Linked DNA regions of Homo sapiens: region 1 is linked to region 2. Evidence: fine-mapped expression QTL. A gene starts in region 2. The other region holds a variant in brackets. All regions are shown on one strand. Distances are from middle to middle.

Region 1 (2,909 bases), 51 kb after region 2:
AGGTCTGGTTTCAGTATCCTCAGTACCTGAGGCAGATCTGGCTGAGAAAAGGTGATTTGGTAAATGTTTGTTGAGTTGGAGGGAAGTTTAGATGGATGGACAGGTAAATTATCACGAGAAACTTTTGTGAAGGAATTTTAGACACCAGCTAGCATAATTAGGGTGAGAAGTTACGATTTGTCAGCTAGTTAATTTGTATTTTTTGGGCAGGAGATCTGCACATCCTGAAAATTAGGCCACAGAAGTAGACAGGTTCTAAGCCTTGTCTTTCTCTTTAAACAGGGTTTGTGTTTTTCAGGCTGAAGCAGTACTAGCTTAACCCAGGACAACTGGTTACTTTAGAAGGAAATCTCCTCACCACTGCTGTCCTACACTCTGTCAATTCTTTCTGAGACACAGCAGCAACATCCACAGGTGGCAGGCAGGCTGTGCCTCAGGGCTTTGCACTCCATCTCCTCTGCAAGTCAGGAATATTTATTTTACTTGAAGGAAACAGATTCAAAGAGGTGAGGTAACAATTGAACAATAATACTTGGAGACTTCAATACACTGCTTTCAATAATGGATAGAACAACCAAACGGAAGATCAATAAGAAAACAGAAGACGTGACCAACACTGTGGACTCACTAGACCTAAAAGACATCTGTAGAACATACCACCCACGAGCAGCAGAATACACATCCTTCCCAAGTGTACATGGAACATTCTCCAGGATAGACCCTATGTGTAGAAGTCAATAACAGAAAGGACTTTGGGAAATTTACAAATATGTGAAAACCAACAGCATACTACTAAACAACCAATAAGTCAAAGAAGAAATCACAAGGGAAATTAGGAAATACTTTGAGATAAATGAAAAGGGAAACACAACATAGGAAATCTTATGGGAGTAGGTAAAGCAGTGCTTAGAGGGAAATGTATAGCTATGCATGACTATATTACAAAGGAAGAAAGATCCCAAATCAATAACCTAACCTTCCGCCTTAAAGCACTGGGGGAAAGAAAAAAGAACAAACTAAACCCAAAGCAAGCAGAAGGAAGGAAATAATAAAGATTAGAGCAAACATTAATGCAATAGAGAATAGAAAAACAGTTGAGAAAATCAACAGAACCAAAGGTTGGTATGTTGAGAAGATCAACAAAGCTGACAAACCTTTAGCTAGAAAGAGGTGAGGTAATTTTCCCAAGGTGACTCCAATAGCAAATGGCAGAGCCAAGATTCCAAAGCAGGACTGTCTAATGTCAAATCTGGGGTTGTAGCTTTGTCTCTCACCTGGACTAGGAGTGTGTCAAGGATCAGGAGCTTGTCTTACTCATGTGTGCATCCCCAGTGCTTTGCTCTGTGCCTGGCACACGTAGGGGCTCAGGAAATATTTGCTGAAGTAAAATGAAAAGTAAACCTCCTCCCCACCCTTAGCAACCATCTGTGTGAGATGATAAATTATGCTTCCAATGCAGATCAAGCTGAATTGCACTATTTCTGATGAGAAAAGCTGAAAACAGCAAACTGCTTGTCCTTAAAAATAAACCCTTCAGCTTCAGAGATTTGGCCCAGAAATGAACCGTGTTATAGCTCAAGCCCTGAGATTGAGT[G/T]TATTACCCTGGAGCCAGGGGTGATGGAATTTGTGACTGGAGAGAGAAACTCGATCACCTTGACCTGGCCGCTGGATGCAGACTGCAGGCTGGTCTGCCCTTGTTCCCGGTCCCGGGCCCCGGAGGCTGAACACCACTCACGGGAGGGCTGGCTCAGCTCAGAGGGACAGCTGATCCCACAGAGCTCAAGACACTGAATCGTGTCCGCAGACCGATAGAACAAGGGTTCAGCGATGGTTTCCCAGCTGAGCCAGACCACATGGAGCCTAGCTTCCTGATATTTCACAAGGGGTGAAATGTAAAGAATGTTGACTTTCATTAACCCAAGTGCATGTCAATATGTCCTGAAAGGCTGGGAGAAGGTGAGCCCAGGTAGATTCTAGAGCAGGATGCCACCACATGTTCAGGCTGGAGTGACATGGCCAGCTGTCCTGGGGGGCAGGGGAGGACAGAGACCCTTCACCAAATGCCATCTCTTCTTGGCCTCACAATGGCTGCGTGAGGACAGCAGGGTGCAGGCTGCTTGCCCATTTTCCAGAAGGACAAGATGAGGCCCTTAGAAGTTGCCCTACTCACAGCCGGTAGAAAAATGAATCCAGTTTCTTGGACTCCAACGTCTTTCTGCCCGTCCCCCGCCTCCCGACTCTCACCTCCTTGGAGGCTTACGGGGCTCTGTATAAGTTTCCCACAAAAAATCCGTGCTGCTGGGTGGAACGCGGGTGCTGTTCACATTCGTGTGTGGTTTTCCCTGGCTTATATGCAACAGCTTCTTTTTCTCTTTTCTTAATTTAAAGGTGACTCTTCTGGAAGTCCCCAAAGTGGAATTGACCCTAAATTGAAAAGAAGATCTTTCTAGGGCAAGAGCTTTGTTCTTGTGAATTTTCTGCCTCACCAACCATGGGGAATGTGAGCTGGGGGGGAAAAGTCTGTTAAAGCTGGTCATTCATTTCAGGGGGCCAAGGAGCGATTCTGAAGGAGCAAAGTCTCCTCATGCTCTTGGCCTTTTGATCTACTCAGGCTCTGTGGCAGGAAGACAGGGAGGAATCCCTGATCACCCACAGCCCTCCCCGCTGCTGTTAAGGCAGTATGATGATGGGGGGTGGAGCTGGAATTAAAAATAAAGAAATACAAGCTTGAATTCTACTTTAACATGAACAATCTCTAATTTTCATATCATAAAATGAATAAAATAATATTTTTTCCCATAGAAAGTGATGAACTGGTACATGTATTTTAACCAGTTGTAAAATGTCTCCTTCCCTGTATCTGTGTCTCCCGCTGTATGCCACCACAATATCTGGCACGCATGCACTGT
Region 2 (2,882 bases):
AGGGTCTTATTTAGACAAAATATAACAAGAATAGAGAATATAATGTGAATAGTGCCCCCTGGAAGTGTAAAGCTGCAGGGCTGAGTGTATTGTCCTGGGCCTTTGGAGCTTCAGGTGAATCCTGTTACATGTAATAGTAATAACAGAGCTAGTTATATTGTCACCATGTGCTATGCACTATTTTAGATGCTTTATGTATTTTATTTGATCCTCATAACTATCATATGAGAAAGGTACTATTGTTCATCCCTATTTCACAGGTAAGTAAACTGAAGCCCAAAGAAGCTTCATGACTTGTTCAAGGTCACACAGCAAGCAAGTGGCAGACCTAGAATCCAAACTCAGAATATGGTTCCCAACTCTGTACTTCTAACCCTATTCTATCTTTTTTATTTTTTATTTTTTTGAGACAGACTCTCCCTCTGTCGCCCAGGCTAGAGTGTAGTGGCACGATCTCAGCTCACTGCAGCTTTCGCCTCCCAGGTTCATGTGATTCTCATGCCTCAGCCTCCGGAGTAGCTGCAACCCTATTCTTTTTTCTTTTTTTTTTTTTTTGAGACGGAGTCTCGCTCGGTCACCCAGGCTGGAGTGCAGTGGCGCGATCTCGGCTCACTGCAACCTTCGCCTCCTGGGTTCAAGCGATTCTCCTGCCTCAGCCTCCCGAGTAGCTGGGACTACAGGCATGCACCACCACACCCGGCTTCTTCTGTGTGTGTGTGTGTGTGTGTGTGTGTGTGTATTTTTTGTAGAGAAGGGGTTTCACCGTGTTAGCTAGGATGGTCTCGACCTCCTGACTTCGTGATCCGCCTGCCTCGGCCTCCCAAAGTGCTGGGATTACAGGCGTGAGCCCCCGCGCCCGGCCGCTGCAACCCTATTCTATCTTGCCTGAGGGTTCCACTTTTCTCCATGACACTCTGGGGCAGGCTACAGATAGCACAGCACGCGCCCTCGCATTGCGCAGATGTGGCTCAGATCCCACGCTGCCATTCGGTAGATATGTGTCTTTAGATAAGTGACTTAACTTTCCCGAATTTTAGAGTCCTCATCTAAAGATTCTAATACCTTCCTGACAGAGTGAGTGTCTGGTTGGGAGGATTCCTCATTTACTTTCCCCATCTCTCTGCAAAGAGAAAGGAGTTAAAATTGCATGGAAGTCAAACCCGAAATTATAAAAGCGACATCAAACATGGGTGAAGGGAGGGAGACCTAAATCATTACTTAGTTTAAAAAAAAAATGTAACAAATACCTACTGGCTGCCAGGCACTCACTGGCATTGGTGCTCAGGGCAATGAATCCAGTCCATCTCTCCGGGTCATTCACACACCAAGGCCCTGCTCACCTTTGGAAAGCTGGGGGACTGAGTGGGGAGGGCACGGTGTGGTGTCAGCCTGAGCCCACTGGATGACCCTAATCACCAAACATCTGCTTCCTTCTCTGTAGCTGTGACCCTGATACCGCGTGGTGTGCTCCGAACACATGGTGCCCAGAACGAAGGCGGCGTCCAGAAGCCCTAGGTCCCAGAGGTCCGCTCAGCGGCAGGCGCATAAGGCGGGGCCGGCGCGGGCCTTTCCTTCCATCGGAACCGTTCTCCCGGGGCTGAGTCCCTGCCCGGACTCCGAACGCCGAAGACCAGGGGCCGGAAGCGCGCGCCGCCACTGCCACGCCGTGTCAGTCGGGAGGGAGGGAGCGAGCAGGCGAAGCCGCGGAGGACGGGGTGAAGATGGCGGCCTTCTCCGGTGCGTTTGTGGAAACTCTGGGGGTGGTGGGGCGGCTTGTTGCACGCCTCAGCCCTGGGGCCGCCCGCGGAGAGCTAAAGGGGCGGGAGCGGACAGGGGTCAGGGAGACAGAAGGGCGCTGTCCGCTGCAGTCCCTGATGGACCCGCGTTGCGGGATCAGGGGCGGCCGCGGCTCGGGTTCGGAGGACGATTCTTCCCAGGAGCGGGCCGGAACGTCCCTCCCCCTGCCCTTTCCCTTCTACCAGTCTCCACTTGGCTTTCCTGCCAGTGCACCTTCGGCTGCAAAATCTAGGCGGCGGCGTTGCTCTGGCGGCTCCCAGACGCCTGGGCCTCCTGCCTCTTAACGTGGCAGTGACCCTTTGGGAACCCTTTTCTGCCCGCGGCTCATCTGGGCTTGGCCAGGCAGAGAGGCGAGACGGCGTGGGGAGGAGTCATTGGGGAAAAATGACGATCCTGCCTCTGTCCAGTTTTTTCAGGCCCTTCCAAAACGTCCCAGGCATAAACCTGATCTTTATTTGTTCTTAAACGTTGTTATATCAACATTAATGTTCAGTGTTGAAGCTAAAGGGAAAGCATTTTCATTAACGTACGCACCAGTCCAACATAAGTTTGGAAAATTCATATTTATTTGCCGTCTGCTACCCTCCTTTATTCCAAATATGATTTGATATGGCTTATCGAACCCTACAGTTGATATTTTCGCCTCTTGCTTTATCATCCTCCTGTTAGGCATCCAGTTTTAGGAAGCTGTAATCAGCCTTAAATGCGCTAAACGTGATACATTTATGTAGCACTTATGTAACGTTTATTGCTATATAAATGTATCACGTTAGGCCTAATGTCCTTTAATGTTATTAACTTTTTAAGATGACTTCAGATGTAGTATTTTATATTTTTTAGTTTTCTTCTGTAAGAATATTAGGAATTCCATATCTCCAGTCATGTAAGATATTTTTTTTCTTTTTTGGGGGGGAGAATGGGGGGGTGGGGGGATGTAGTCTCCTTCTGTCGCCCCAGCTGGAGTGCAATGGTGTGATCTTGGCTCACTGCAGCCTCCACCTCCCAGGTTCAAGCAATTCTCCTGCCTCAGCCTCCTGAGTAGCTGGGATTACAGGCGCCTACCACCATGCCCTGCTCATTTTTGT

The links. PIP is the estimated chance that this variant, and not a neighbour inherited with it, causes the effect.
Region 1: its variant is the best candidate, but not a certain one, in a credible set for the expression of DDX1 in esophagus mucosa (GTEx, PIP 0.74).

The regions. Positions count from the first base shown.
Region 1 is chr2:15,640,753-15,643,661 of GRCh38, forward strand. No RefSeq gene overlaps it. Among named protein-coding and RNA genes, the nearest start is that of LINC01804, 49 kb to the right of the region's middle. The variant G/T (reference allele first, on the strand shown) is at 1,595.
Region 2 is chr2:15,590,213-15,593,094 of GRCh38, forward strand. It overlaps DDX1 (DEAD-box helicase 1), which reads left to right and starts at 1,656. Exons shown (of 26, transcript NM_004939.3): 1 at 1,656-1,737. The coding sequence starts at 1,722. LOC124905975 (a long non-coding RNA gene) reads right to left here and starts at 1,557. Exons shown (of 2, transcript XR_007086224.1): 1 at 1,248-1,557; 2 at 1-1,120. RefSeq lists an enhancer at 1,695-1,754.